Linked DNA regions of Homo sapiens: regions 1, 3 and 4 are each linked to region 2. The links come from fine-mapping of genetic effects on gene expression. A gene starts in region 2. Each other region holds a variant in brackets. All regions are shown on one strand. Distances are between the middles of the regions. Region 1 has its middle 29 kb from the start of LINC01752. Region 2 holds the start of MKKS (MKKS centrosomal shuttling protein). Region 3 overlaps SLX4IP (SLX4 interacting protein). Region 4 holds the start of JAG1 (jagged canonical Notch ligand 1).

Evidence for each region. PIP is the estimated chance that this variant, and not a neighbour inherited with it, causes the effect.
Region 1: its variant is fine-mapped to the expression of MKKS in anterior cingulate cortex (GTEx, PIP above 0.99).
Region 3: its variant is fine-mapped to the expression of MKKS in whole blood (TOPMed, PIP above 0.99).
Region 4: its variant is fine-mapped to the expression of MKKS in left ventricle (GTEx, PIP 0.95).

What each region holds. Positions count from the first base shown.
Region 1 is chr20:10,719,645-10,727,750 of GRCh38, reverse strand. No RefSeq gene overlaps it. Among named protein-coding and RNA genes, the nearest start is that of LINC01752, 29 kb to the left of the region's middle. The variant A/G (reference allele first, on the strand shown) is at 4,184.
Region 2 is chr20:10,429,350-10,437,455 of GRCh38, reverse strand. MKKS (MKKS centrosomal shuttling protein) reads left to right here and starts at 3,234. Exons shown (of 6, transcript NM_170784.3): 1 at 3,234-3,348. It overlaps SLX4IP (SLX4 interacting protein), which reads right to left and starts at 2,151. Exons shown (of 8, transcript NM_001009608.3): 1 at 2,003-2,151. LOC128706665 reads left to right here and starts at 3,234. Exons shown (of 3, transcript NM_001394148.2): 1 at 3,234-3,348. LOC128706666 reads left to right here and starts at 3,234. Exons shown (of 3, transcript NM_001394149.2): 1 at 3,234-3,348. RefSeq lists enhancers at 1,998-2,047, 2,208-2,437, 3,328-3,387, 5,338-5,839.
Region 3 is chr20:10,459,828-10,467,933 of GRCh38, reverse strand. The region is part of intron 2 of SLX4IP (SLX4 interacting protein); the gene reads right to left. Among named protein-coding and RNA genes, the nearest start is that of SLX4IP, 29 kb to the right of the region's middle. RefSeq lists an enhancer at 663-1,362. The variant T/C (reference allele first, on the strand shown) is at 4,171.
Region 4 is chr20:10,672,491-10,680,596 of GRCh38, reverse strand. It overlaps JAG1 (jagged canonical Notch ligand 1), which reads left to right and starts at 6,598. Exons shown (of 26, transcript NM_000214.3): 1 at 6,598-7,147; 2 at 7,591-7,896. The coding sequence starts at 7,067. RefSeq lists a silencer at 5,976-6,375. The variant A/G (reference allele first, on the strand shown) is at 4,168.

The DNA.
Region 1 (8,106 bases), 290 kb before region 2:
AAGATTTCATATGAGGGACCAAATATGAAATGACTGCTGTCAGCAAATAGAAGCTATGCAAGATCTTTAAGAGGATCGGGTGAGTCAAGAGATCAGATGCCAAAAGATGAGTCTGGTGGCCGCAGTGTTTAAGATGGATTAGAGTGAGGAGAGTGCAAACTTGAGAAGATGAATTAAGAGGTTAGTGCAACATCCCCAGGTAGAGGCACTGGGGGCCTGAACTCAAGTACAGCGGTGTGGGAGGGGAGGCCAGGCAGTTACAAGCAGCACTGAGGTCAACCTTCTGGGCCTTGGAAAAAAGTGGAATACAGTTGAAGCGTTTGAGCCTGGGAGATGGGAAATTGTCACTACTAATAGAGGACACAGAACACAGGACAAGTTTGGAAATTGAGAAGCCGAGTTCAATTTGGGAAATATTAAGTTTAAGGTCCTGGCAAGATTTCCAGTTGGCAAGCAGCGTGGTAGAAGTGTCTTGTCGGAAGTTGGGAAGAAAAACTCACTGGATAAACACACACATGAGAAATGAGCACATGAGACAGTTAATCATATACAAGAGGGTATTTTTTAATAAAATGCAGAAGCTCATTACATTCCAGATTCCACTTACTGTTTTGCCCATTTGCTGCCTTGGTATTTCTTCCTGACCCCGAATAGAACAGGTGCACAATATTTGGTCCCGGAATTCTGCTCTTCCTGTTTCTTATTCTTCTACTCAGAGATCTCATTTATTACCAACTTCAAAAATCCACTCCAGTCCCATTCTGCTGCTCACTCCATAGCCCCATAGTTCCAACTGCCTGGTAGAGATGGCCACCTGACTTGGGCATCTCAATCCCCAACTCAACACATACAAAGATAAATTCATCGTCTCTTCTCTTCCTTAATTGGTACTTTCTCCAAACGTCTTTATTTCTTTGAATAGGGACTTTGAGCTGTGGTGCCTCAGACCTTTTCTAATTCTTGACACAGCCATCCTAGAATAGCCGTTTTCTGGGACATTGTTTCCCCTTGTATTAGGCTGTTCTGATGCTGCTAATAAAGACATTCCCGAGGCTGGGTAATTTATAAAGGAAAAAGGTATAATTCACAGTTCCACGTGGCTGGGGAGGCCTTACAATCATGGCGGAAGGCAAAGGGGAAGGAAGACACATCTTAAATGGCAGCAGGCAAGACAGCATGTGCAGTGGAACTCCCCTTTATAAAACCATCAGATCTCATGAGACTTATTCACTATCATGGGAACAGCATGAGAACGATCTGCCCCCATGATTCAATTACCTCCCACCAGGTCCCTCCCACGAGATGTGGGAATTATAGGAGCTACAATTCAAGATGAGATTTGAGTGGGGACACAGCCAAGCCATATCACCCCTCCTCAAAGCTTCTGGGAGCTCCCCAATGTGGACAGAATAAAAGCCAAGGTTCTCAGCCCAGGTTTCAAGGTCGTCCACAAAGGCCATCAATGGCCATTCTTGGGTCCACCCCAAATCACCTTTCTAACCACGGTTTCTACTGCCTCTCTTCTCAACCCTGCATGGAGGACACAAACCTGCACCTGATACTCAAGCATGCTTACCTTTATTTCTTCCCTCCTTCTCAAGTATATTAGCATTCCTTCCTTCTGGCAGGGAGCATGACTCCCCAGCCGATTCCTCATTTGACCTGTATCCATTCTCCAGGCCTTGTCAAAAGTCCTAACTTGTCCTGAACCCCCTCCTTGTCCATTCTGGTGGACAGAGAACAAAGTTGAGCTTCCTCTACCCTCACTAAACAAACCAGATGGTGTTTGCATATCTGTTTCCTCATGTATGATATGGGGGTTAAAACCTTACCTATATCATAAGATTTTTAAATTAAATATGAGCTCAATAAATTATTATTATGATCACTAGTATTATATGTTAGACATTGGGCTAGGCATTTAAGGATGTAAGTAGGAATACTTACATCCTTGGCTTTTCATGGCAAAACATGCACAATCCCCACCCTCTTTAAAAACTCCATAAAGAACCAGCCCTTTGCCATGTACTTCAAACATTGTTTCACTAATAGTGATTTTCTAGTTTTTAACTCTTGAGAGCAAGTAACTTATCATCTTAGCTTAATTATTCATGGCCCTGAAATAAAACAAGAACATCCTTCCAAGTCATATTTTACCTCAAGGAGCTCAAAATCTAATGGGAGAAAAAGCAGAAGTGAACAGGAGAGTGCTTTGTGCCTACTGGACTGGGAAGAGGAGATACAAGTGATATGACACTTCTTCGCTGTCTTGTCTAATTATCTTTTCTAAGATGTCAGGTATGATTCTTCTATGTGAATGTAAGCCTTGGACAAAGTATTTTAGAATATTGTCCTGAAGTAACTCCTAGGAAAGTGTATCTTATTTCTCTTTCTTGTGCTTTTACCTTTCCCAGAAGACTAGGTACTAAATAATTATATGTTCATGGGATAAACGTTTTTATTCCAAGAGTTGGAGATTTTTGCTCATCTTACCATACTTAAAATTATAGTGTAATTATTAATAGTTCAATATTTAACACCTTTTACTGATAGGTCCTCACCCTTATGTATCTGCATATCACACACATACACACACACACACACACACACTCATCTCTAACTGCCCAATTCACATGTACCCAAAGACATTTTAAAAGCACTCAATCTAGAGTCAAAAAAAAAAAGAGAGAGAGAGATTCTAGATTCGAGTCTCAGCTCCACATCTAGAGCAGCGATCAAGCGTGTAAATTATCCTTGCCAAGTCTCAGTCTACTCATCTGTAAAATGGGTACACCAAAATGTGGCTCCCGGTCCTGATTGATCATAGGACTCTCATACGGGGAGACTTGTTATTCATATTCCTGGATTCCAATCTGAACCTATTAGAGCAGAAGTTCCAAGGGAGGCCTGGAATCTGTATCTTTAAAAAATCACTCCAGATGATTAGGTTAATTCATGAAGTTTGAGGATCCCTTTAGCAATTCTGATTCCCCTCACATTAAAAGGCCTCCTCCAAGAAGCCTGGGATATCCTGGAGCTAGGATCTGAAGCAGAGAGTGTATAACTGTTCTAAGACAGAAGCTGTAATAACAGGGTCACTCCTCCTTGTTTTCTGCTCAGAAACAGCCTTTCTTTTCACTTCCCAACTGCGGTTTCTGATTAACATAAATATTTCAACCATTTATAATTCTTTCTCATTGATGGCTAAGGGCAAAGAAAACACTTTGATTATTTTGATACCTCTTAAGACTTAAAGCCAGCTTTGAACATGTGACACAAAATCTCCTTCATCAGATAGTATTGTTGCAGTTGCTGAATTCAGTTTAAATCAGATGGGTATCTTCAATTGTTTCACTGACTGAACTGTGTTATTTTAAAATCTTATTGCATCCTCCCTGTTTACCTAAAGATATGTTTAAGGAAATATACTCAGCTTTACTGACTTTGATCAAGGCTCTTCTATAAAATGCCACTTTGCTGGTGCTTTAGCTCAATTGACTTAAGAGAAAAAATTTTCCCACTGTCCCCGGGGAGCTCCAGGGCTCTGCTTTGCCAGCTCTGGAGAATGAGTTTTTCTAAAAGAACAAAACTACCTACAAGAGCTTCATGGACTGAAGTTTCCAAACTCTGAGCAAATTTGGGGAAATTTGAAGAAATGTGTGTGCTCATCAAATATGACCATGCACCCTCCCCCTATATCAAATGATTCCATGCCTATAGACAAACTAACAAAATCATCTAAATTCTATCAGAAACTAACTTTCTGTTAGAGATTCTGTACCTTTTTTTCCCTGCAGTTTCTGGCACAAGAAACCTGCTCCCAAGGAGTCCAATTTTCTGATAAGGGGTCTCAGCCTATGGAATCTGACTGCCTGGCTCCATCTTTTGCTAGCTACGTGAATTTAGGCAAGGCACTCAAACACTTTGTATTTTAGTTTCCTCTTCGGAAAAATAATAGTGCCTGCTTTTCCAGGTTGCTATGAGGTTTAAATTAGATATTACATATAAAGGGCTGAAAATAAATCCTACCGCATAGTAAGTACTCCACGAATGCTAGCTTTTATTTCTCCTTGCAGGGTTATAGCATTTGAGGCAAAATAAGTAAAAAAGAGTCCCCTATGCCCTGTCTGTCCCACTACCTCAGCAGCAGACAGATGTCTTCTTGAGTGCTTTGCCTTTGTCT[A/G]TACCAAGAAGCCTGTTCAACCAGGTGAAACAACTGCCCTGGTCCATACATGCTTCTATTTTCTTCCTCAAAGAGAACTTGGAGTTCCCCCATGCTTGGATGGCAGTCACTCTTAATCTTTCTCTGCTTTCTTTCCTATAGCCTAAGAGATACCACTAGCTGGGTCTCAAGTACTCTATTCCAATTTGCCATTGTGAAGTCATCTTAATAACACTTGCACACTAGCAAGCTCAGAACAGCACTACTTCAGTTTGTCCCTACTGCTGCCATTCTGGAAGTGAGAGATGCACAAGCCAAACTCAGGTAACCTCAATCTCTAGCATCTAGTAGACACTCAATAAATACTTGAGTTATTAAATCAGTCCTCTCAACCCTTCCCACTAAGGCATTCAGACTGTAGCAATGGTAGTCTAAAAACCAATCCTTCTCTCTAAGAGTGCCCTTCCAAAAGGGAAAGGAGGGAAAGAAGAAAGAAGAAAGAGAGGGTTGGGATTGTGCATGTTTTGTCACAAAAAGCTAAGGATTGTTATAGCCATTGGGAGGGAGGACATAAATATGAAGTAACAGACATCTAAATAAATTCCATCTATTCTGCAAGATTCAAGCTTTTATTTGATGTAGATGAGACAGTAAAGAACCTGATGTCTTGACTAGGGAAACAACAAGAGAACTACCCACGACTCTAGATGAGTTACTTAGCAAGGGAAACAGGCTTTTCTAAACAGCTTCTGCCCCAGAAAGGCTTAAATAACATCAACTCCTTGGCCTTGGGTCCTTGCATGCTCATTTCTTACTGAGCAAGATGGCTCTGCATTAACAAAGACAATCGAAAACCAGATCATGCAGAAAATGAATTGATGGCAAAGCTTCCAGAATGAAAAAAAAAAAAAAAACTTACCATGAAAGTGACAAAACCTAAAATCTCACTGATTTAAAATATGGGATTTTGAGATTAGGACAATTCTTACTAAAATATGACTTGGAAGGGTGTTCTTGTTTTATTTTAGGGCCATGAATAATTAAGCTAAGATGATAAGTTACTTGCTCTCAAGAGCTAAAAACTAGAAAATCACTATTAGTGAAACAATGTTCGAAGTACATGACAAAGTGTTGGTTCTTTATGAAGTTTTTATTACATCCTGTTCACTGGAATACTGAAAACTCAGATCGTTCCCAGAACCTATTATCATGGTCAGAATTCTATGTTCAGAAAAAAATGTACTGAACTTTCAAAATTTAGTTCGTATCTGAAGGGAGGGAGCTGGGAATGAACAATTCTACCCAGGAAAAATAATATGAATTATTCAGAAGAAAATTCTCCATAATAGCTTAATCTTCTCTGCTTCCACATATTTGTAACTGATATAGCTTCAGGAAGTAAAGAAGTTACACCCATGCTAGTTCCAAGTGAAAGGGCCCATGGCATTCTGGGAGTGGTCTCCTCTTATCAGTGTTACTTTGGGGAACACAATAGCTTCTGGGCAATGCCCATTATTGGGAGATCAACCAAATTGCCAATTTTCGACCCTAAGATAGTGGTTGAATTAGCGTAAAAATCTCTAGTTATAATGTATTTTATTATTCTGAAGATATTAAAAAAGGGATGACTTTTAAATTTCAAAATATCCCACTAAGAAAGCTTTCTAATTATTAATAAAGGTGGTATAGACAGCAAGGAAAATGACATAGAAATGAAATTTTATTTATGTAGAATTCACTTATTGAATACTTTTTAGTCTGATCTATGTTCTAGACAGAAACACAGCCTGATCCTTTTTTCTATTCTCTTTCTGTTTCTCATGGCTGTCTCTGTTACCAGGGCTGTGCCATCAAAGGAAACCACATATGCTCTTGGCCTGGCTAAACATGGCACGGTTGGCACGTGGATAAAGAAGGTCACTGTGGAAGCATGAACAGAAACAGCACAACATTTTGCATGCAAAAAAAAATGAGTCACAGATACCTTAAGAATATATTACTTAGAGAAGAGAAAATGTAAACGGATTACACATTTGGGAAGGCGCAAGGGGAATAAATGGTTAAAGGAACTGAGATTGGCCCCACAGGGTGGTTGAGTAATATATGGAGTGTTATTAGATCAAAGTTCTCTATCTCCAAAGAAAAAACAACCAAAAATTGGCTTTAAGTCAGTCCAGAAAGATGTCAGCTTAGCTTTTAGGATGAATTCTTGATGTATAAGTTGATATGTATCATATTAGGTTACAAAGAGAAGTCTTGTAATCTCCCTCCCAGGAGAGGCATGAGACAGGAAAAGTCCAGTAATGCGCACGGCCATGTCAAGTGGCCGATTCACCCAGAGCCAGAGGAACCCACCAGGAGACTTACCAAGGTCCTTAGAGGCTCGGGATTTTCTCATAAAACAAACACGAGGCTACAGAAGTGACTGCTCTGCCTCTTGTTCAGCAATTTTAGCAAATTCCAAATACTTTTCCTTCATACAAATGAGGTTAACAGCAAGAACAGATTTTACAAGGACATTTTACAACCAATCAGCACCTCGTGGAATGAGATAAATACCTGCTTTTTTCCTTAATATGGTAAATGGCTGGACATAGTTTAAAATAGAGCCAAAGCTTGGTGCAATTAAAAAAAATAGGTGACAAACAAGAGACATGTGCAGGGCAAGCATGTAAATAGCTTTTGGGGAAGAAAGCTAATGGATCTAGTGTTCACACAGGGAAATTTCACTAGACTCTTTAACCAAAGTCAATCTGCCACGTTGAGGAAATGCAGGATCAGCCTTGATACTTTTTGTCCCAAGGGAAAGTTGCCTGGTTGCCAGCAAAAAAAGAGAACTATTTCCATTTCTGTTCTTGCTCTGAACAGTGGGCTGAGAAGAAATTGATCTCATGCGGAAGTCTACAAAGAGAAAGCCTTCTGTTCACTTCTTTCTCAGTTGAGACTTGCTCCTGCCAAACTAAAAAGACACACATGGAATCACAGACTCTTACAAATAAAAGAAATTTAGAAAGCTTGCAATCTAAAACACACACGCATCTCAAAACATACCACTAGCTAAAGAAGGCCCGTAGCCCAAAGAATATTTTTCCTTTTCTCACAAGAAAGTTGCAGTCTAGGTTAGAAAACCTGCTGGAGGGCAGTCCCATCTCAAGAACGCAAGATGGTTGCCCCAGTTCACTCTGCACTGAAGTGAAACCTCCAGCTTCCTCCCCAGACAGGTCCTCCCCAAAGAGATCACAGCATCTCTGTTCAGAAAGAGATCTCAGTAATCTGTCTTAATTGCTGAGCTTCTAAAAAGCTTTTGACTCCGCCACAGTTATGCCTTAAAAACCCCCACACCCACACTCAGAAATTTTTGTGTTTTAGCCATAAATTTTTTTTAAGACAGTTGAATCAGAAACCTTGGGACCATATTGCTCTGCCAAATAAGTCATGTACGTGGAAACTGAACCCCCACTAGAATGCCTCAAGTTGTGGCTAGGTGTGTCACTGATCTCTTCTCTGTTTAAAAAAAAAAAAATCCTTTCCTTCTGTTCCTTTACTTCTTTTCTAGGTACTAAGTAAATAAGTAGAGAGTTTTGTAGTCCCCAGCTTGTACAGCTAACCCCTCATAAAACAATTCATATTGTATAAAATAACAATGCTATCCATTGAAATTAAAATGGAAAAATTTTAACTGTTACTCAGCAAAGACAACAAAGGTGTCCCCTTTCAGAGTTGATAAGAGATCATGAGATTGAAACTCTGCACAGCACTTTGAAAACTAGAAGCCCTAGTCTTAGGACCTCATTCTTTTAAAGCCAATAGCTTTGAAAGCTTGCTAGATCTGAAACTGGCTCCATCCTATGTTATGTTTTTGATCTACAACACTGTGAAACAATTACTGTTGTAATCAAATACACTTTGATTATTTACAGCTCTCTATGCCATTTACCCTTACA
Region 2 (8,106 bases):
TTCTGTTTTCTCATACTCCTTACTGGCTCTTTAATTTCATCCAGAGGGTCTCAATCTCTGCAGATACAGGGCTGGAGTCTGTTTTTAAAGCTCCCAGGTGATTGTTACGTGCAGCCAAGGCTGAGAACTCTTGATTTAGTCTTCTCATTAAAGAAAGACAGAAGGCAGCTGGGTGCAGTCGCTCATGCCTGCTTTCCTGCACTTTGACAGACCAAGGCAGAAGGATCGCTTGAGCCCAAGAGTTGGAGGTTACAGTGAGCTATGATCCCACCACTGCACTTCAGCCTGGGCAACAGGGTTATACCCTGTCTCAAAAAATAAAAATAAAAGAAGTAAAATAAAATGGGAAGACAGAAGAAAGCAAGGTGCCACAAAAAGCTTTGGTAAACCAAGGCCCAAGGTTTTCCAAGTCAGTATTGAACTGCTGTCCACATGCAAACTTTTGAGTTCAACTTTTAACAAATTAAAAGTACAAATATGCATACAAGATATGAGAAAGCAAGAAGCACAGTAAACAACTTTTAAAAAAAAAACGCAAACCAGTGGTAAATTGGATGCTAAGACTTACAGAGAAAACCCTACATTTCAGATGTTATAACAGAAATTACATATAAGTATATTGGGATGACAAAATCTCTTTTCAACTTTTTGGAAAGCTAAATTGACGCCCTAACATCAAGTCAATGAACTAAAAGCACAGAAAAAAACCTGTCAAATATCCATTGCATTTAGAACATGCAATAAATTGATAATACACTGTGAATCTAGTTAAGAAGCACGGGTTGAACAAAGAATGGGCCAGGCCGGGCGTGATGTCTCAGGCCTGTGATCCCAGGACTTTGGAGGCCAAGGCGGGTGGATCACCTGAGGTCAGGAGTTCGAGAACAACCCGGCCAACATGGCGAACCCTGTCTCTACTAAAAATACAAAAATTAGCCGGGGGTGGTGGCGCGCGCCTGTAATCCCAGCTACTGGGAACGCTGAGGCAGGAGAATTGCTTGAACCCGGGGGGCGGAGATGGCAGTGAGCCAAGATCGCGCCACTGCACTCCAACCTGGGCAACAGAGCGAGACTCCATCTAAAAAAAAAAAGAAAGAAAGAAAGGGCTGTATCTTTAGCCCATGCCCTGAATCAATGTTCCTTGAACTTTAAGGTACACTTCTTGAGGAAGATTCTGATTCAGCAGCTCTGGGGTGAGAGTCATGAAGTGTAATTCTAACAAGCTCCCAGGGATGCTGATGCTGGTGGTAGGTGAAATGAACTTGGAGCAACAAGGCCCTAAGTAACTGGAATATTAGTTTTAACGCTAGCCAACTGGCTTACAAATATCGTTATGTCTAGGATCCAAGAAGTAAGTGTCAATACCATTAATTCCTACACCCGGCCAAAAAAATTAAAAACTAAAAATAAAAAAAAATAGTTCAGGGGAAGGAGAAAGCAAATACTTGTTTATACAGTCTAGCAGTGCTAAGAACCATAAAATACTGTTATTTGTCTCAACCTAGTAGATGTCAAGGTGATAAAATGTAGGCTCCATGAGTTAATGGATTTTTTTTAGCTAACTCCTGAATCCTTATGGCCTAGCACAAATTAGGTACTCAAGAAATGCAATGAATAAATGAATGAATGGGAAGTATATACAAACGCAATCTGTATTTACCTCACATCTCCAAAAATGTCTGGGAAGGGGGAGGTATTTGTACTGCTGGATGCAGGTAGCCATGATTTGATACAAATACCTGGCCCATCTACTGCATTCCCTTTGTGCAAAGACAGTTAACTTTCCTGAATAATATCTCCACCGTAATGCCCATGCTCATGGCATCCTGATGTTTAGCAACTTTTTGGCTTTTTGAAAACAATGAAGAAAGGTGGAAGTACAGGGAGAAGGATTCGGAAAAGTCTCAAAAAATCAAAGCCAAAAACCAGGAGGGAGGAGATGGGCAAACAGTTCAGTTCACTTGAAGGAACATCTGAGGTTGTCAGAGGTCCATGTGCTTACCTATGATGGTGGCGGGGTTTGGGCTCGGGCTTTATATGTTTTGTTACTGTCCAGGGTCACTGGCGGAGTAGTACCTGGCTGTGGAAACTCGGACTACACAGGTAGCCGGAACTGCAGCCAACCTTCAGAAGCTTAAGGGAAGCACTTTCGCGCTTACTTCCTCCTTCCCAGGGTCTCCGCGCGCGTTTGGGAACTCAGCCGCCGCCCAAACACAAAATGATCTGGGCAGCTTCGCTGCAGGATTGAGGCCACAGCCAGGATTTAAGATGGCAGCGAAACACTTCGATGGCCCGTGGAATCTGCCCAAAAGAAAAATGGCCTCTGTTCAGAATATCGCGGCTTTCAAAGTGGGCCCAAAACAAAAATGGCGCCGGACGCAGGCTATTTTTAAAGGCTGGGACCCCAATGACTCTCATTAGCAAATAACGTATCATGGTAACTCACGGTGCTAGGCAGTTGAACTGACCGAGAGAAAAAAAAACGCTTTTCTGTGGTGTGTTTTCTTAACATTGGAAAATGACTAGCTCAAGAATGGAACATATATTCGGTGCGAAAGATTGTGAGAAAGGAAAGGTAGCTTTCACAGTGCCGGATAAATTTTAATAAAAATAGCCATGTTTGAACATAACTTCCTATATGTTTTTTAATGTTAAAAGAGAATAAAAGTTTTGTCCTGGAACCCAGAAGCAGGATGGGGAAATGCCGGGTGAATTATCTAATCTGTGAAGAGTACGAGCTGCGAAACTCCGCACTTCCCTGTAAGCCCTCAGGAAGGACTGAGGGCGGATGCTTTAGTAGAAGGCAACTAGCTCTCACGGCGCATGTCCGTTTTCCAAACCCGATCCCGGGAGTTACGGGAGAGTAAAAATCCTGATTTTCCAGACAACCGCACAGAGAGGCGGGATACTGGCGCTGAGCGACAAATCCAAGCGCTTTGTAATTGGTCATGTCAGGACAGAGAGCAGAGCGCAGTGGACTATTTCTTTCTTTCATTCAATAAATCATTGTCAAGCGCTCACCAAAAGGCAGAAGCTGTGCCATTTTGATATGTTATTTAAATTTTATGCGTTCTTTTAAAATTTCAGTTTCAACAATTTGCTGGAATATACGCTGAATAAACTTCGCTCCCCGTTTTTTCCGGTGACGGCCGCTGTTGGCTGGAGCTTCACGGAAAACCCGGAGAAGCGGAGTGGGGGCGGCCCGGCGTCGACCGCAGAGCTGCGCGTGCTCCGTGCCCTCGCGCGACGCGAAGGTTGTCGGGATCCGCGGCAGCAGCGGCTGCTTGAGATCTGTTTCTGGGGCCTCTGGCGGTGGCGGCCTGGGGCGGCGCGACGGCTGGTGCGCAGGTGAGAGCGCTGGGACTCTAGGTGGAAAAGCCCGCTTTGTGTCCGGCCGAAGAGAGGGGAAGGGGCTTGTAGGCGCCTCCCTCTCCACCCCCAAAGGTCACCGGTGTCCTCACTGAAGGATATTTGAGGGCGGGGACAAGGAGGAGGCTGGCTCTCTGTAGGAGGCGAAAGACCGACCTCTGAAATAGCTGCCGATGGTAAATGTTGCGGTCGGCACGGATGCGGGCGGCGAGGAGGTCTTCCCGCCGGTGGGGAGAGCTGGAGGAGTGGCGCCTCACCACGCTCCCACCTGCGCTGCCGCCTTCTACGCCGAACCTGTGACTCCCCGTCCCCTCCCTCGCTGGGAGGGGCCCCGTGTGCCCCTGACTGTCTGGAGGGTGCACGGTGTACCCCAGGCTGTCGGGAGGTGGGGGCCGCCCTCCGACGGCGTTAGAGACGTTGTGCAGCGTGGCCCTGCCAGCTACGTGAAAGCAGCCGCGGGGCTTGCAGGGCTGTGGACCTTGTAGGGATGACCCTCTAAGGTCATGCTCGTCTTCCTCCCCGATAAGACCATACCCAAATCCTGTTGCCGTTTCAGAGACTCAATATGACGGTTTCATTCATTCATTAACATCTTCAGTTTATCCATAAACAGATATACACGTGTCTACAGCACTGCCGAGTTAGTAGATACGGCAGTGACCAAGAGGGACTTGCACGGTCCTGACTCCATGTTCTAGTGATGGGGGAGAAACAATACGCTCCCTATCCATGAGTTCCGCATGTGTGAATTCAACCAACTGCGGATAGAAAATATTTTGGGGCGGCGGGGTTTGGTGGCTCACCCCTGTAACCCCGCACTTTAGGAGCCCGAGGCGGGCGGATCACTTGAGTCAGGAGTTTGGGGCCAGCCAGGCCAACGTGGCGAAACCCGGTCTCTGCTAAAAGTACAAAAAAATGAGCCGGGCGCAGTGGCGCACGCCTGTAATCCCAGCTACTTGGGAGGTTGAGGCAGGAGAATCGCTTGAGCCCTGGAGGCGGAGGTTGCGGTGAGCGGAGATCACGCCACTGCACTCCAGGTTGGGCGACAGAGACTCTATTTAAGAAAATAAATAAATAAAAACATTCTGGGGGAAAAAAGATGGTTACATCTGTACTGAACACGTGCAGACCTTTTTTCTTGTCATTCCCTAAACACTGCAGTGTAACAACTACTTACATAGCATTTAACGTTGTATTAGGTATTATAAGTAGCCTAGAGATTATTTAAGGTACATGGAAGGAGGTGGCAAGTTGTGTACAAAACTACACGATTTTTTTTTTTTTTTTTTTTTTTTTTGACAAAGAGTCTCGCTCTGTCGCGCAGGCTGAAGCTGGATCTCTGCTCACTGTGCAACCTCCGCCTCCCGGGTTCAAGCAATTCTCCCTGCCTTAGCCTCCGGAGAAGTTTGGGATTACAGGCACCCGCCACTGCACCTGGCTAATTTTTGTATTTTTTAGTAGAGATGGTGTTTCGCCATGTTGGCCAGGCTGGTCTTGAACTCCTGACCTCAGGTGATCCACCCGCCTCGGCATCCCAAAGTGCTGGGATTACAGGCATGACCCACGGCGTCTGGCCTACTACACAATTTTTAAATCAGGGACCTGAGCATCTGGATTTGGGTATCCATCATGGGTCCTGGATGCAATCCCCCAAATACTGAGGGGTGATTGCACATTGATATTGAGCAAGATGTTTCTAGATTGTCCTAGGTTGGGTTTCCTGAGAATCAGACTCTGAGGAGATTTAGAGGCAGGACATTTACTAGAGAAGACTTTTTGGATGATTACCAAGGAAGAAAGGAAGCAGGATTGGGCAATAGAAAAAGTTAAGCTGCAGTGAAGTCTCAAGGATGTTCTCCACCAGTCCCACAGGAACTCTAGTGCTGGGTTGGCCCTTCAAAGTTGAAGAGAAGGGCCAGGCTTTTATACCCCTTGATTGATCTGTCGTTAGATGTCTGTTTCCCTGGAAAGGGCCTAACTTCAACTCTCTTCAGCCAAGTCAATCATGGACGGAGGCTGGCAGCCGAGGTCTGTCTCAGCTCTTCCAGGAGCTGGGGAAATAAGCCTTTCATTCCTTAGGGGGGTCAGGGTGGCACATCACAGCATTCATCACAAAGGTAGGGCTTTGAAGGAATCACGTGCTAGAGAATAATGGGGAGGGAGAGGGAAAACACTTTAGGTTGAGTGCTGAGAGAAAGGCTCTCTGAGTAGGTGACATCTGAACTAAGAGCTGAAGCAGAAGAATAAGCCATCCTCTGTGGACCAAAGGGGACAAGATTCTCTACTTTTCTGCTACGCACTAGGAATATAGCAGAGAAGACAAGTGGCTGCTACCTTCTGTTATCGTGGGTGGCAGTGACTAGTTTTTCTAGATCTTGACTCCCTGCCGTAACTAAAGATGGAGTAAGTAAAAATGGATTGAGACTAATTCAGAGGAGGATAGAGGAAAAAATGAGAACTATGATTTTGAAAAATGAGTCAACTTGGTAAAGACTTTATGCAGTTTTTTGTGCGGGTTTGGTTTGGTTTGGTTTGGTTTGGTTTGGTTTGGTTTGGTTTTTTGACCCTATACAGCATTGAGTTATGTTTTATTAAGATTGTCCCATTATCTTCTCAAACCTGTATTCTCCTTGAGGACAAGAATCATGCCTTACTCTTCTTGGTAGTTCCCCCCTGAGGCTAGTAGTCTTGCTAGCACCTAATAGACACTAAGTGAGCATTTGGATAGAATTAATCTTGTACATATTTGAAGTGAAAATTGCTAATCCCTAAATATTGTGAATGTGGGATACATGACTGTGTTTGGATTTGTCTTTACAGTATTTCCTCACCTTATAAGTTGGAACCCAATTTTAGTCAAAATATTCGATGATAATATATAATTGCTTTGATCAAGCAGGAACCTCCAGGGGTGCCTATTTTTATATATGATTCGTATAAGATAATATACTCCCAATAAAAGTAATGGCTGCCGTGTATTGAGCACTTCCCACATGCTAGGCACTGTACTAAGCTATGAATGTATATAGTTCTCTTCATAATGTGGCCCCCTATTTCAGATCATGACATTGAGGCAGGAGAGAAGTAATTTGTCCAAGACCATAACTAATTTGTGGTGGAGGTTAGACTTTGATTCTCGCCATTACTCAATGCTTTTGCTCTTATGTAAAACGTTGTTTCAGACCAACAGCGTGTCTGAAAATGTCGACCAAGTTTCAGTCATTGTAGGATTCTCACATTTGATCACTTGGCTGCTCTATTAACTGTTATTAGAGAAACATACATGAAATTTTTCACCGTCTTTGCTTCTTTGCTCTGTATCAGTTTTCTGACTTCCTTCACAGCTTTCCTGGCTCTCACTTTAGAAGCTTGACAGTTATCTGTCCTATAATATCCTAGAATCTAATTACCAGATTCACTACCCTAGTCAAACCCCAAAGACCTCTGAACCTCTCTGTTGAGACTGGGTATTTTTATTCTTAGCTAACTAACTGAAACTGCCCAGAGAAGTGGGCCTTCCTTTATGGGGACCACTTCCCTTAGTTTGGGCATTAATTCTAATCCTCTCCAGTTCTTGCTATACTACAGGTTAATTCCAGTAATGTTTTTTTTCTTTTTGACATAATCAAAATAATAATAGCTAACAATTACTGAGCCCAGACAAAGTGCCAAGTATTGTGATAACTGCACAGCAAGCTTATGATATGGATGTTATTATTCACATTGTACACACAATGGAACTGAAGCACAATGAGATTAAGTGACTAATCCAAGGCCACACAGCCAGTTGTAAAGTGGTAAGTGAAGATTCAAAGCCAGGTGGTATGAGTCCACAGCTCATCCCTTAATCACTACATGACAATGCATTCTTACAAAAATGATTTAAAGTGCTTGACTTTCTGAAAACTGGTAGGCAGGATCTAGATCCTAGTGGATTTTTCTTTCTGCTGTACTAAGAAATTTAGATTTCACTCTAGTCAAAAATGTCACTAAAGGCTTTTAAGCAAAGCAGGAATACAACCAGATTTGTTTTTGTTTTTGTTTTTTTGTTTTTTGTTTTGCAAGATGGCTATATTAAAAGTGTAGAGAATGGATTAGTGGATGTAGACTAGAACAGTGGGTCTCAAACTTTAGCTTCAGAATTACCTAAAGAATTAATTAAAACACAGATTACTGGACCCCACCCTAGAGTTTCTGACTCAGTAGGTCAGGAGGGGCAGCTTGATAATTTGCATTTCTAGTAAATTCCCAAGTGTTGCTAATGGCACTGTTGAGAGGACCACAGTTTGAGAACTACTGGAATTGAAGCAAGGAGGTCATGTGAGGGCGCGAGGGTCTGGACTGTGACCCTAGGGAGGAGGGATTATGTAAAGAAACACTTATGTCAAATGGCAGGATGTGCTGAGTGAGTTGATGAGGAGCATGAGGAAAAGGGCAGAGTCCAGTATATCCAGATTTCTGAATTGAATGGCTTAGTAGATGATGCTTTTTGTTAACGAAACAGGAAATCCAGGTGGAACAGCAGTTTGGGAGGGAAAGAGGACTTATTTTTATATGAGATGAATTGAGACTATTTGTGGGGACGGTTAGTTCAAAGGTGTACAGTAGCAGTTTATTATGTGGGTCTAAGCTGGAGATGAACGTGTGAGAGCCAGAGTGGATGCATGATCATAGAAGTTTGGGGATTGAATGAGACCGCCCAGGAAACAAACACTACCAAAGACAGATCTTTGATAA
Region 3 (8,106 bases), 30 kb before region 2:
GGAAAGGACTGGGAAAATGAAGCCTAGAAAACTGGGTGTCTGGCCAGAAAGGCAGAGAGAACTCTTAGAAAAAAAAAATTAATTTCAAGTCCAAGAACTTTGTTTCAAAGTCATCAACACTCAGAGCAGATGCCTTACAGAGTGAGAAGGTATCTAAAAGCTCTAAGCCTGAGATAAAACTCATTGGGTGACTGCTGGTGTGAAAACTTTTACTAATTTTATTTCAATTCTTTCACGAAATCAGCACATACTTACTTAAATACAGCTTCCAGCATGAGCAAAGCAATAGAACAATGATACTGAATGGGAAAACAGCATCCTATGTTAGTTTGGGCATAGCATCAACCACTCTGCAAACTCGCATTGACCCTGTATGTCTTTAAAACATAAAGCTCTTACAAGGAATACATGAAATTAAGGAGGAATTGGAAGATGCAGACTTTAAGTATCAGGAGAAGAAATATAGAGGTACTTCTTTCACTTTAAAAGTTTCACAGGGACAAATCTCTGTAAAATCATTCTTCGGGACAAAGGTTGCACACTCCAAAGTTATTTCCAGTAAGGAATATAACCATTTAAAATGTTTGTGATTTATTCTGTTTAGGCACTTCAGTTTTATTCTTTCTTAAAATGTGTAGAAAAATCAGTACCTAGAACTCAATTGATATGAAAATAATTGCATAAATCTTTTCAATGTGATACACAAAATCAACGCAGCCATTTTCAAATGAGCACTGATAATAGTCAGTACCACGTTCCCATTTAAGTAGACGAAAAAACCTAGGACACAGGATTTAAGTGATTCCTTGAGGCAAACTAGCAAGACAAAAGCCTAGTGATTACCCATTTACCATTCAACTGTCTCTTTCTCTGAAAGTTTAAAGAGCTGCTCTATACTTTTACTATAAAGGGGAAATCATTGTCAATTCTTAGGCTTATTTCTCTTTTTGTGGTGTTCTAAGGAATGTGAAGACTAAGGTTAACTGAAATTCAGAGAAGAATATAAAACTATAATTGCTCTGAAAGAGTGGAAAGAAAAACATTGATAGTAAAGATGCAGGGAGTTCTTTTTTTTTTAATAAAATCTCTCCTTTCCTCCTAAATATTAATAAAACCTTAAATCTTTTACTTTAGATTCAGAAAACGACTCAAGCTTCCCACCCCTAAATTCCAGCCCTCCCCTCTCCCAAAATAAAAAGTAGACAACCCCATCAAGAGCAAAAGTAAAAGCGTTTAGCCTCCTGGAATGGGTGGGAAGAAAGAGGAGGGGATCATTACACATTCCCTGTAGAAGACAAAGCCAGATGCACATTCCAGAGAAATCTGGCGGGTCCGAGTTTTTCCTTAAATACAGACTGGCCTGTCACTAAGCCAGGCTCTGTAATCTTCCCAGGCTGCCACCGCTAGGGAAGCCAGGAATCCCTTCTAATTAATCAAGCCCTCCCAACAAAAATTTTCCCACCCACAATAAAGTAGGTTGGGGGGGAAGGGAAGCAGCAGAGAAAGCTCTGCAGCCAAAAGAATTCTAGACTTTAGTATAATACCTAACTAATCCAAGAAAACAGATGCAGGAAGCAGAGGAAATTATCTACAGAGACACACAATGAGGTAGGAAACTTTCACAGCACTGCTCCGCTGGGACCCAAAATTTAAATTCAAAATCATAAGTTAGAATTATTATTGAGAGCGACCCTGGCAACATTCTATACTTTTTCAAATGCCTCTAAGGCAGCGGGTGGACACATAAACTTTCCTGAGGTAGACACCATGTGTATCACTTGACACTTTTAACAATAATTTGATATTTGGATTTCTTTTTTATTTTACTAAAGTTTTGTTTTAATGGATAAACATTCATGACTATTACATTATGTGTCCATGTCTATTTCTTGCAAAGGAAATGGCTTTACCTTGGCCTTGCTAACTTACCCCACACCTGCAGCCAGTTTAACCCAAGGTAACTTCATTGAATGCTTATTCTGATAAGGTACCAGGAGGTAGGAGTACCAAGGATACAGCAATTTAGATCTGTGTTGGCCAATACAGCCGATACTAGCCAGTGGTGCCTACTGAACATTTGAAATGCAGCTAATAGGAATTGAGATGTGCTGTAAAAGATATATTTGTAGGCCGGGCACAGTGGCTCACGCCTATAATCCCATCACTTTGGAATGCAGAGGCAGGCGGATCACTAAAAGTCAGGAGTTTGAGACCAGCCTGGCCAACATGGCAAAACCTCATCTCTACTAAAAATACAAAAATTAGCTGGGCATGGCGGCATGTGCCTGTAATCCCAGCTACTTGGGAGGCTGAGACAAGAGAATCACTTGAACCTGGGAGGCAGAGGTTGCAGTGAGCCAAGATCTTGCCACCGCACTCCAACCTGGGCGACAGAGCAACAAGCGAGACTCAATCTCAAAAAAATAGATAAATAAAAGATATATTTGTATACATATTCTATACATAAATCAGTGTGTGTGAGTGTGTTTATTTCAGACTTTGCAAGCAATAAGGTCTTTGTTTCAACTACTCAACCCTCCACTTCATTGTAGCATAAAAGCAGCCAGGGATGATATGTAAACAAGTGGGAGTGGCTGGATTCCGGTAAAACATTATTTACAAAAACAAGCAGCTGGCATGTGGGCTGTAATTTGCAGATCTCTGGTCTAGATCTTTTCCCTACCCTAAAGAGTTTATTATTTTGGAAATTTTAAAACACTGGGGTGGGTGCAAAGCTTGGGTTTAAGATTGCTATGAAGCCTTGGGGAGATGCGCCTGCTGCTACCACTTCTTTCAGTTAAAATAAGAGTCACTCACTGAAGTACAGGACATACCTCCCTGCTAGAAGCTGCAGTAGCCCAGAAGTCTATAGACCCTGAAAGTTATACTTCCAAGGATTCCTACATCTCATGCACTACTGCCATTTCCTGGAAGTCTGGCCTCAGAAGAGTCTTCAACTCTTGAAAGAGTTCAAGAGCCAGCTGTGCGGTGGCAGTGCCGCCTGTAGTCCCAGCTACGTAGGAGGCCAAGTCGGGAGGACAGTTTGAGCCCAGGAGTTCATGTTCAGCCTGTGCAACATAACGAGATCCTGTCTCTAAAAAATAGTGATTAAAAAAAAGAATTCAAGGCCAGAACCACAGCCCTTAAAAACAAAAAAAAAGTATTCATATGCAGGAAGGTCAGATGGGTAAGTCGTTTGCATGAATAATTAATGCCATTCCAAGGGCAGTCTTAGAATAAACAACCCAGATGAAGTGTCAAACTATTTGGTGTTCATCAATTTTTCTGTTACTTTGAAACCCTGCTCTAACCAAGTACTTTTCAACCCAGTCAAAAGTGGCTGCATCTATGTGAAAAATTTGCATAAGTTAATTAATTCCTTTTAAATGTTATTTATTATTATTGTTTTTAATTTAGAGATGGGGTCTCACTATGTTACTCAGGCTGCTGGTCTCTAACTCCTGGCCTCAAGTGATCCTCCCTCCTGGGCCTTCCAAAATGCAGGGATTACAGATGTGAACCACTGTACGCAGCCTACATTTTATTTATGCACTTAATTTTTATATTAATGCATAGACACATATTAAAACGACATATCAAAGTGAGGTCTCAAGCTGGGTGTAGTGGTGCACATCTGTAGTCCCAGCTACTCAGGAGGCTGAGGCAGGAGGATTGTTTGAGCCCAGTAGTTCAAGATCAGACTGGGCAGCATAAGGAGACCCCATCTTTCAAACAAACAAACAAACAAAAAAACAAAATGGCCTCTTCTGCCTCATCCAGCCCCCTCTCTCACTCCAACTCTCACTCACCATGGGCAACCACACTGAAACTTAGCTTTTTGATCTGGTAATTTGCCAACATATTTCTAAACACTATGTTTATCCTACGAATGTCTTATTATTTCAGTTTTATATACTTTATGTGGAAAATGAAGACTTAATCCTTATACCTGCCCTCCCACATGTTTCCTTCCCCAGCCTTCCAAAACTTGGAGTTCACAATATTATGAAATGTAACCTCTGTTCAAAGCTGAACCATGCAGGAGGATCACTTGAGCCTAGGAGTTCAAGGCCGCAGTGAGTTATGACTGTGCCACTGCATTCCAGCCTGAGCAACAGGGCAAGACCCCATCTCTATAACAAGAAGAACAAAAAGTTGAGCCACGTAGTA[T/C]ACTATGCTTAATTTCCTATCTTGCACAATCTTTTGTTTACTGAGAACTGAGGGTTGCATCATTTTTCTTTTGTTTAGTTTTCTATATTCCTATGACTAAATCATTCCCATGCTACCTGACAGGCCTAAAAAAATCTCTTCTCAATGCATTTAAATACATGATGTATTTTATTCATTTCATTTTTTGTTGAAGAAATCTTTCATGGAACCCTCTGTCTTCTTCCAATAGGACTGGTTACTTTGGTTGCAGTTCAGAAACCAATACCCAGAAATATAACACTTTGACATGCTAAACTAAAAAAGCAGCAGCAAGGTCTCTCTGACCTCCTCCCCTCCTCCTCTCAATCCGTTATCTCTCCCAAAGCACAAGATGAGGCTCTCCGCTGAAGCTCTATTATCTGCCCAGAAACTGGATACCCAAAGAGGAACACAATTGCCTTCCATATTCCCTGAAATTATCTATAGCAGAGAAGACTAAAGAATGCAACCACACAGTGGACAGGCATTTCAACTAGGTATTATCTGCTTCTCGGCTCATTCAAATTCTAAAGAGAATCATTTACAAGTTAATTTCTGTCTCTCGAGTCCATTCATTTCCCCTAAAAATCAGTTACCCCTATATCTCCCAGTTCCCTCTCCCCAACGAAGAGGGTATTAAGGGTCAACCGTCTGGCTCTTTGGGTTTTCTTTTCTTGTTGTTGTTGTTTTTAGAGACAGGGTCTCTCTATGTTGCCCAGGCTGAACTCAAACTCCTGGGCTCAAGCAAATCTTCTGCCTCAGCCTCCCCAAATGGCTGGGACTACAGGCATATGCCATCACATCCAGCTTTTGAGTGTTCATATTTTGTATGACTCCCATGCACTTGTGTGCACATAATAAATTTGTTATGCTTTCCTTAGTTAACTTATTCTTTTGTTACAGGAGTGCTGACTGTGACCCTCCATGATGGGGAAGAAAGGATCATACCCTTTCCACCCTTACACTTTCTAGGCAAAATACACAGTAATCATCAAGGAATTTGGTTAGGCCCTCATCTGACTGGTTCCCTATTTCCTGGATCCCATATCTGATTCTTTCTCTGTTTATTCCCCTATTTTGGAAGACCACATCCTTTCTAAAACAGTGTGCATCAGAAGGGAAGTGTTTTCTACATTCTGCATCCTAAAAATAAATGTCTCTATTCTACCATGTGACTGAAAGTTGGGCTGTAAAGGGAATTCTTGGTTGGAAACCATTTTTCCTAAAATATTAAAGGTATTGTTCTACTGTCTCCTAGTTATTGCTGTTGAGAAGGGTGTTCTGATTCTTGATTCTCTGTCTGTAATCTGTTTGCTTTTTAAGTTCTTCTCTAAATTCCCAGTGTTCTGAAATTTTAGGATGATATACCTTAGCACAACTCTTTTTCATTGACTTTATTGTGTATTCACTCACAGCTCTTTCAAACAGGAAGTTTGTATCCTCCACTTCCAGTAAATTGTATTGCATTATTTCTTTCATAATATTTTCTCAACCATTTGTTTTTCTTTCTAGAACTCCAATTTTTCATATCAAGACTGAAACTCTAATTTTCTTGTGGTTTTCTCCTCAATTTTTTAATCTATTATCTTTTTGTTCTACTTTCTGGGCAGTGTTCCTTGGTGTTTGCCCCATACTTTATCATATTTTCATTTATATTATGTTTTTAATTTATAAGAGCTCTTTCTTGTTCTTGGGAATTTCCCTAGTTCGTAACATCCTAACCTTGTTTTGTGGTTATATGTAATACCTTCCTTTTTCGCTCTGAGACTCCATCTCTACAAAAATTTAAAAATAAAAAAAATTAGCCGAGAGTGGTGGTGCATGCCTGTGGTCCCAGCTACTCAGGAGGCTAAGGCAGGAGGACTGCTTAAGCCCAGGAGGTCAAGGCTGAAGTGAGCCATATTCACACCACTGCACTCCAGCCTGGGCGACTGAGTGAGATCCTGTTTCAGAGAGGAAAAAAGCACTCTCAAAGTAATAAGGAAAAGAAAAACAGGGAAAGGCAATTGGCCACTGGCCACACAGCACTCACACAAGACTTCAGGAGCAGTGTTCCCTGGGAAGAAAGCATGTCTGACAACATCAGTAGCAGGTGTGCAGGTCTCCTGCTGCTCATGATACCCTGGAGCAGAGCACAGAAACCTGGCAAAACTTCATGTCAGATATTTAAAAAGGGATCCCCATGCTTGAGTCACGGAGCTTCTAAGTAAGGTACATGATTAGAGAACCACTGGTCCCTAGCCTGTCAGAGGCAGAAATACAACCACAAAGTGATGTGCAGAGCCTTCAATACGATGTGTCAGAACCCTGTCCCTATCCCTATTATGCTAGCCTGATACTCACGGTTGAGGCAACTCCTCTGCCTGCCATGATCTGGAAGCTTTGTTCCAAGCCTTGCAGGCATCACTATAAGATGGGATAATATGGTAGCAGAATATGCCATTTCCATGGGTATGGAACAGACCCATCTCTTGCATAATTAGGGGCCTCACGTCCAAGTTTCATGGTTGACCAGGATGGTCTGCCCTACTTGGCCATAGCCAGTTTCAACAGAGTTTTGCAAGAAGCCCAGCCCTTTTCTGAGCAGACAGACTACCAGGGCTCAGTCTTGGAAAAATTAATCTCACTCCTCTAGCATATAATAAAGTCATATGAGACTATCCAACAAACTTCAAATAAAAGTTCTCTATAAGAAGAGAACAGAGAGAATTAGGAGAGGCAGAGAAAATGGTCAAGAATTTTCCAAAACTGATGACTTGAGCCATCAAATTGAAGACATACATTTTATCCCAAGCCAGAATAAAAACAAGACTATAACTAGAGATTTCATAGTGAAACTATAGAAGAGCAAAGACAAAAATAAATCTTAAGAGCAATCAGAGAAGAAAGACAGATAACCAAGAAGGAATCAGATCAGGCCAACAGTGAACTTCTGAGGTGAGTAGTCTCCATAGACGCACCCCAACAATTCTCCCAATCCCTGTGAGAAAATACTGCTTCTCAAGTCAAGAGTGCAGCTTCCCCTGACTCTAGGCTGACCCTGTGAATGCTCTGATCAATGGAAGTCCACAGAAGTGGCATCTGAGATGTCTGCATCTAGGCCTTCAGAGGACTGACAAATTATACTTCTTTCATTGTGCAAGTCTTAAGATGCTACCCCTCAAAACTCAGCCACCGGGGTAGATGCCCAAGCCATGCAGAACAGGCACGTGGATGAGAACTAAAGGACAACAATTAACAGATCCAGCAATGATTCCAACCAAAGCCAGCATCAACTGCACTGAGTATGCCATCTTTCATTTTCCACCTAAGTTGAGTCCCTAAGTAGAACTGCAGCCCCAACCAACATCAAAAGGAAAAATTACTCAATTGATGCTAGGCAACCTACAGAATCAGGAGAGATTATAAAATGGTTCGTGTTTCAAGCCACTAAGTTTTAAGGTGGATTTAAGCATCAATACATAATGAAAACATTTCTCAGTAGTAATAAAAGATGCCAGAAGAAAATTAAAAATTATCTTTAAACTGTTGTTGGAAAATAATGCTCAACCTAGAATTCTAAAACCAACCAAATATCTTTCTAGGGTGAGACCAAATACATTTTTAGACACACAAATAGTGAAAGTTCATCACTTACATGCCTTCACAGAAAGAAATACTAAAGAATATATATATGGATACAAAAAACAACTGAAAGCAATGAAATTTATAAATATGTTAGTAAATCTAAATAAGCACTGACTTGGTTAAAAATAAGACAGAGCTATAATATTACATAGTATCTAATCTGGCCAACTAGCTATTGTAATTTATATTTTGATGTTTTGAACTTGCACTTATGGTAAGACTAGCATACAGAAAATGTCCTAAAGAAACACCAACATATATGAAAGCATCTCCAAGATCTTGCACTCATCA
Region 4 (8,106 bases), 240 kb before region 2:
TGACTGCCAACGCCTACATTCCTCAGACTGTGAGCCCTGCCCTTCCTAGTATCTGCATTACACTACCTGTGTGGTCTGTTGAAACCCACCCCCGCGACCCCAACTTCTCTTCACATGAATTTCTGCCAAACTATCCTGAAATAGAATAATTGACTTCTCTAGTTTTTATCTGGCTTTTAAGAAATATTATCACTTCAGTGGAGGAAATAACCATCTTTTGGAAATTAAACTTTCTTCTTTATAGTCTTTCTAAGTTTTCTATGTCTTAGCCTTATTTCCAAAAGCAAAAAGAACTTCTGATATTGCTCTGAAATGATTTCTGAATGATGCTTATGAAAATCTATGTATCAGTAAACCTATGTTATGACTAATATCTAAGGATCTAGAAGTGTATAGTTGTTACTTGTACCAATATTTCTGTGCTGAAGCTAGTATTTCTTTATTTAGTCATCCTTAAGTGCTGTTAGCATAAAGCAATAATAAAAACAACTATTTATCTTCCCAATGGGAAATCAAACCTAAGCATTGCAATGATCCACTTTTGATGTTCTTAATAACTTCTAATTTAGAGGAAGCCATCAGTACAGAAACCACTGGCTTGAGAACAAAAGTGTCAAACACAGACACAGTCTTGTAATTTATTTGGGACCATTAACCTGAACATGAAATATGTAATTCAAAGCTCTGTTATTTTCATGCCATTGGCAGGTGCAATCACCTTTCTTTGACTCTCACATTTATGTATGTGAAAATTTGAAATTTTCTCAGATAACTAAATACATTTAGCTCTCCTTCCTCAAGTTCCAGCAACTACTTTACCTTATTTATTTATTTATTTGAGATCTGGAGGCATCTGTTTGGAAAAGCTGAGTGCAAGTGAGATGAAAGGTACTCACAGAGAAAACTGTATTGTGGTAGTTTCCAAATACTACCTGCTTCTGGAAGTGTAATTTCCAGAACCTTTCAGGAGATGAAAAGGCTTGTAAGAGATCAGTCATACTTCACAATTATAGAAAATTGTTAGTTGCATTTAAATCAGTCGACTGTACAAATGGACCAATTTGGTTAAAAAAAAATTCCATCCCAGAATATCTATAGGTTAAGTCATTCAAGTGCCATTCACAAGAACAGACGACTCACTGTATCAGTGCCAAAAAAAAGGAGGATATGTGAATCATTTACAGTTGTTTTGAGAATGCCAATTTAACAGCAACTTACACGCAGAATTTTTTTTTTCCCTGAAAAGACTGAACTCTAAGAAAAAAGTACATTTTGTACGTAGGACTTCTCCCACACTCTAGCTTCACAAAGAACATTTGATTTTAACTAAGGAGTAAAATGTAAATATTAGTCTCGTAGTTCTGAGATTTTGCATGTAAGTTTTTTGGCGACTTTCTGTGATTGGTTTGGTAAAGGGTATGTGGACACATAATTCTATTCATCCTGATGGTTTTCCACATAATGACTATGAAACAGGATTGGGGCAGGGAGGACAAAATCATAACTACCTGGGCTCAAGATAAAACCAAGACAATGTTTAACATGCGCTCATACAAAATCACTGTTGATAATACAAAAAAATTCACAGTTCTGGTTTCAAAAAATTAATCCAGATCTCTTGTGTACATATGATGAATCTTTGGGAAAAAAATAGCTGGATCTACTCAACTTATGCTTGAATGAGCAAACTTGTGGCCTGGTTGTGGTTGCTACAACTATACCCTGATTTTCAGTGTCTGTTATCTATAGGTTGGTGGTGGGTTTTTTTCCATGTAGAATATCTTGTGATGTGGGAGAATGATGTTGTGCTTCCTTAGGGAGCTGGCTGGACAGGTTCATGGGAGGCAGTAACCTGGCGGGACATGTGAGCTTCACTGGGCTCTGCTGGAAAGGGGCAGAAAGATAACATATCCGTGGAACAGGATTTGTGAACTTGTGTTAACATCTCTGCAAGTTCAAACAAGGAATAAGGAAGATCTTAATGGATATTTTACATGTGCCTTCTCTACAATTTGAACCTAACTGGAATGAAGAATGGGAAGAAAGAACTACTTTCCTTTCGTTCACTCTTTTTTTTTTTTTTTTTTTTTTTTTTTGAGATGGAGTTTCGCTCTTGTTGCCCAGGCTGGAGTGCAATGGTGCCATCTCATCTCGGCTCACCGCAACCTCTGCCTCCCAGGTTCAAGCAATTCTCCTGCCTCAGCCTCCTGAGTAGCTGGGATTACAGGCATGCACCACCACGCCTGGCTAATTTTGTATTTTTAGTAGAGACGGGGTTTCTCCATGTTGAGGCTGTTCTCGAACTCCTGACCTCAGGTAATCCGCCCGCCTTGGCCTCCCAAAGTGCTGGGATTAGAGGCGTCAGCCACCGCTCCCAGCCTCATTCACTCTTAAAATCTACAGTATCACCATTCCTTTGAAACACACTCTCCACTCAGTAGTGCTGAAGACCAGTATTGTGGTGTTGCCCACCATATTCTTGGCACCCACAAAATACCTGGCAAATCAATAACTATCTTCCCCAAGATTTAAGAAGGAAAATTTTCAAACATAGAAAAATGTCGAAGAATTTTGCAGTGAACACCACTGTAACACCTAAATTCTACCATTAAGACTTTACTGGCTGGGCGCTGTGGCTTATGCCTGTAATCCCAGCACTTTGGGTGGCCAAGGCAGGAGGATCATCTGAGGTCAGGAGTTTTAAAGCAGCCATGGTCAACATGGTGAAACCCCATCTCTACTAAAAAATACAAAAATTAGCCGTGTATGATGGCATGCATCTAATCCCAGCTGCTCGGGAGGCTGAAACAGGAGAATCACCTGAACCTGGGAGGCGGAGATTGCAGTGAGCCAAGACTGTGCCACTGCGCTCCAGCCTGGACAACAGGCTCTGTCTCAAAAAAACAAAAAAAGACTTTACTATTTTGCTTCAGCGTGTAACCACCCACCCAGCCATCCTCTCTGATCCCTCTAATTTTGTATGCATTTCAGTGTCAGTTGCAGATATCATTCCACTTCCCCGCTAAATGCTTCAGCACTCATATAACTGGAGGTGAATATCTGTTCACAATTCTTTTTTCCTCTTTTGAACACCTAATGAAATACAATCTTAAATGTACTATTTAATAAATTTTGACAAATGCATACACCTGTGTAGCCCAAACACCTATCAAAAATATGAAACATTACCCCACAATGCCACCAGAAGAGCCTCAAGCCCATCCCAGTGAAGCTCTGCTCCCACCCACCCACCCTCAAAATCACTCTTGTGATCTTTTTTCACCAGTTTTTCCTGTTCTGGAACTCCGTATAAATAAATTCATACAGGATGTAGTCTTTTGTGTCTGGCTTATTTCACTTAACATAATATTTTTTAGATCATCGATGTTACTGCTTATAATAGCAGTTCTCAATAAATATTGATTAGCTTATTTTAACCACAGTGTTGATTAACCAAGGATTACAGTTGATTAGATGTACTTAAATACAGCTAATATAGCTTGAATGTCTCTTATAAAGCTTTTGCAGGTTCAGAACTGCTATATGTTGTTGACTAGATAAAAGTGGGGCAAGTTTTCTGGGAAAAGAAAAAATGAGGCATCCATCATCTTTTTAGAATTAAAGGAAAAGATATCCAAGGATGATGTTTGAGCACACGAGACAGGTCAGATAGTAACTGACTACAAGCCTCTCCCCTTCTCTCAGGTGTAGGTATGACAGCTAAAGATGGCATTTTCCACAGGAAGGTTGTTCTGGAATATTCATTTACACTTGGAGGCTATACCCCAAAGCAGGACAAGCCCTGCCAAGGGGGAATCTCTGTATTTCAGTTCTCTCGGCAGCAGTTCCTCATTCTCTAAGGAGGGGGCCTGACAACCGGCTTCAAGGAAGCAGAGGATAGAGCTTCCACTCAGTGTCTGTTGTGGTAAACGTGACTGGCTTTTTGGGGGAGTCCCAATTATTTGGAAGAGCCCCAACTGAAAATTTTCAAAAGAATTCCCTCTAGCCCACAACTGCCTTCTCTAAAAGTGGGTTCCCAGGCTCAGGAAGGGTGTGGGACTCTGTGCTATGTGACATAAAAATTTTGTGTTTATCAGTGATTTGACATTCTTGTTAGGTGTAATCAGGTAGTTTTCACCTCTCAGAGTTTATATTTTCTTTCCTATC[A/G]GTCAAATGGGCTAAATTCACTGGTGGACTGGAGGTGACACCAGCTTGCATGTGGCCCAGATTGCAACTGGTGGCACCTGCAATCTCAGGTAGCCCTTCTAGGTGAAGCCAGGTGGAGATCTAAACACTTTAACTAAAGGTCTGGCTCCGCAGCCTCTTTCCTGAGAGCTGTGGGGGGCACAAGGCACAGAATTAAAACAGGGTCCGACATAGGGAACTCCAAGGAGTGTGCTCTTTAAGATCACACCAGCCTTTTTCAGCACCATTTTGCCTTTTTTTTTTTTTTTTTTTTTTTTGAGATGGAGTCTCGCTCTGTCGCCAGGCTGGAGTGCAGTGGCATGATCTCAGCTCACTGCAACCTCCGCCTCCCAGGTTGAAGCTATTCTCCTCTCTCAGCCTCCCGAGTAGCTGGGACTACAGGTATGTGCCACCACGCCCAGCTAATTTTTGTATTTGTAGTAGAGACCGGGTTTCACCATGTTGACCAGGATGGTCTCAATCTCTTGACCTCGTGATCCACCCGCCTCGGCCTCCCAGAGTGCTGGGATTGCAGGCGTGACCCACAGCTCGCGGCCCATTTTACTTTTAAACCGTTATTTAGCACCCAAACTCAGGGATACTTGGGAGTAGAAATTAGAACGGGACAGATAAGTGGGGAGACTGGTGTTGATGGAAACCTCAGTGAGAAAAGTGTAGATGGGATTACAGTTGACAACTGGTTGCCTTGATTTAGGATAATTGGGGAAAGGGAGGCTGGGGCACATTGAAACACCCAGGTTGTCGCTGCCTACCCCAGCTGCTAACATGACCAGCTGTAAACTTGCTCTGTTCTTAGAAACCTCCCTTCCAAAACATGGATTCTCCCGCCAGTGCTCAAGATGGGACACATTACCACTAAGTAAGCACTTTTCTTAGGAGCATTTCTTAGGCTGTTAAAATGCCAAGACTCCTAACCATCCTTGGTAGCTTTGAACCTATGTAAAGAGGTCAGTTAGCTGCCCTAGTTTATTCCTCAGAATGATGAGATTTGGCACTGAAAATATTGTTCATACTGAGCCTCCCATCAAATGCAATAAGTAGATAACCACAAATACCCACCCTTTTATGCTCATAACTCAGCATGTTGGAAACTATTTTCCCTTGACCTATTGCCAGCCCATCACGCCCCACACCCAGGAGAACTCAAGCCCCAAACCGGCCGCTGAATAGTCACGCTTTTCTGCAGGACATACCTACTATTAGGGCCAAAACTTTGTCCACCCTTCAAAGGAAGTCGATGTTTCCATATAAAGGTCCCCTCAAATGCAACAGCAAGCCCGTGGGAGAGGGGTTAGCAGAGGCTACGGCCAGCCCACGGGCTTTCTTCGACCTTGATTATGACCAGGAGTGTAGCTGTTAATTGCGAGGCTTGCCTCAAGGTGGAAAACAGTATCGGTTTCCACTGCCACCCCAGAGAAGGCAAGTTCCGCGGCTGGCGGTGCTGGGGACACGGTCCCTCCCAGGCCCATCTCTTGCCACCCAGAGAGCTGCTCGGAGGCCGCCTACAGGTGCAATCCCGGCACTGCGGCCGGGGCGTCGGGCCGGGGAGGGCGTCCAAGCCCACCAGCATCTCCGCCGGCCCTTCCCAAAGCCTGAACAGGGCCCCGGCGTGCCCGCCGCCTTCTACCCCCGGTTTCCCCGCGCCTCTGCCCCGGCGCGGTTTGGATAGGAAGCTGGGAGCCCTCCCAGGCTCCGCAGACTCGGATTTGGGAGGGGGTGGGACGCGGCCGAGGCTTCCCCTCGAATCTGCGGCAAGCCTGGCTCCAGGAAAGTTTTTCAAAGTTCCCAGCAGCGTCTGCCCAGGTCGCCTCCGCGGGGCGAGCAGACGGCGGCAAGCGCGCCAGCCTCGCCGCCGCCTCTGCCGCCAGCAGAGCGCTCTGGGCGGCTCGCTCGCGGGAAGCGGGCCGAACTCCCGGCGGGCAGGCAGGCCCTCCTCCCGGGGCGAAAGCCGCAGCTGACGCAGGCGGTTCGGAAGGCGGAAGCTGCCCCGCTCCGACCGCTCAGTCAGCGCCGCGGCGCCTACACCTGGGGCCCCGACGCGCGGGCAAAGGCGCACGGCCCGGGGCGCCCGAGGGGGCGGTCCCCGCTGGGGGCCTCCAGGCGTCCCTGAGCAACGATCCCTTCCAAGTACCTCCCCGCACTCTCCCTTCCCTCCTGGCCCGAAGCTCCCGAGGGCGGGGGTTGGTGTGGGGCCCTGGTTCTTCTACGCCGCCCTGAGCATCCCGCTGCCCCCAACCCCTTCCAAGTTCCTCCTCGCACTACCCCCTCCCCAGCAACGTGAAGGGGAGGGGCGTGCCCAGGGTGAGCACGCCCTCTCATGAATATTAATAAGCGCGCATGCGCCCTGCCCGGCGTGCTGGGTAGAGGTGGCCAGCCCCGGCCGCTGCTGCCAGACGGGCTCTCCGGGTCCTTCTCCGAGAGCCGGGCGGGCACGCGTCATTGTGTTACCTGCGGCCGGCCCGCGAGCTAGGCTGGTTTTTTTTTTTCTCCCCTCCCTCCCCCCTTTTTCCATGCAGCTGATCTAAAAGGGAATAAAAGGCTGCGCATAATCATAATAATAAAAGAAGGGGAGCGCGAGAGAAGGAAAGAAAGCCGGGAGGTGGAAGAGGAGGGGGAGCGTCTCAAAGAAGCGATCAGAATAATAAAAGGAGGCCGGGCTCTTTGCCTTCTGGAACGGGCCGCTCTTGAAAGGGCTTTTGAAAAGTGGTGTTGTTTTCCAGTCGTGCATGCTCCAATCGGCGGAGTATATTAGAGCCGGGACGCGGCGGCCGCAGGGGCAGCGGCGACGGCAGCACCGGCGGCAGCACCAGCGCGAACAGCAGCGGCGGCGTCCCGAGTGCCCGCGGCGCGCGGCGCAGCGATGCGTTCCCCACGGACGCGCGGCCGGTCCGGGCGCCCCCTAAGCCTCCTGCTCGCCCTGCTCTGTGCCCTGCGAGCCAAGGTAGGAGCCCTTCTCCGGGCCTCCCTCCCAGCCGTCCTCTCCCTCCCCTCGCGGCGCCCTGGGCGGTTGAGCCCCGCGAGCAGGCTCGGCAGCCCTCGAGCGCCCGACTCCTCGCCCCTGCGCCCGAGCGGCTGCACCTGGGCTGAGCGCGCCAACTCCCCCACGGGAGCCCCTGCCTCCTGAGGGTGACCCCTCCAGGCCGGACAGGGGCGCGTTCGCTCCGCTGTTGCCCCCCGGGAAGTCGTCGGATTTCTTCCGCACTCGTGCATTTTTTTTTTTTTTTGCCCCGGAATCATGTTGAGTCCTTGAACGTAGTTTCGCAAAATTATTTTCACTCGGCGAGGAGGGCTCGTCGGGGCGGGGAGTGGGAGGGAGTCGCCACCTCTATACTCGAAGAAAACAGCTTTCTCCCGCGCTGACCTACCTCCTTCCCTCGCCGGCAGGTGTGTGGGGCCTCGGGTCAGTTCGAGTTGGAGATCCTGTCCATGCAGAACGTGAACGGGGAGCTGCAGAACGGGAACTGCTGCGGCGGCGCCCGGAACCCGGGAGACCGCAAGTGCACCCGCGACGAGTGTGACACATACTTCAAAGTGTGCCTCAAGGAGTATCAGTCCCGCGTCACGGCCGGGGGGCCCTGCAGCTTCGGCTCAGGGTCCACGCCTGTCATCGGGGGCAACACCTTCAACCTCAAGGCCAGCCGCGGCAACGACCGCAACCGCATCGTGCTGCCTTTCAGTTTCGCCTGGCCGGTGAGTGACTACTCGGGAAGGAGGCCGGGCGGAGCCTCACACCCGCGCCTGGCCGAGCCCTGTTATCCCTTGCGAGAGGGATTTAAAGGGCTTTGGCTTGAAACTAGGCGCTAACTGGGGAAATCTCTAGGGGTGGCGGGTGAGGGAGCCGGGACACTATAGTTAGATCTCGGCTGGGGTAGTCGAGGTGGGTCCCATTCCTGCTGCTAT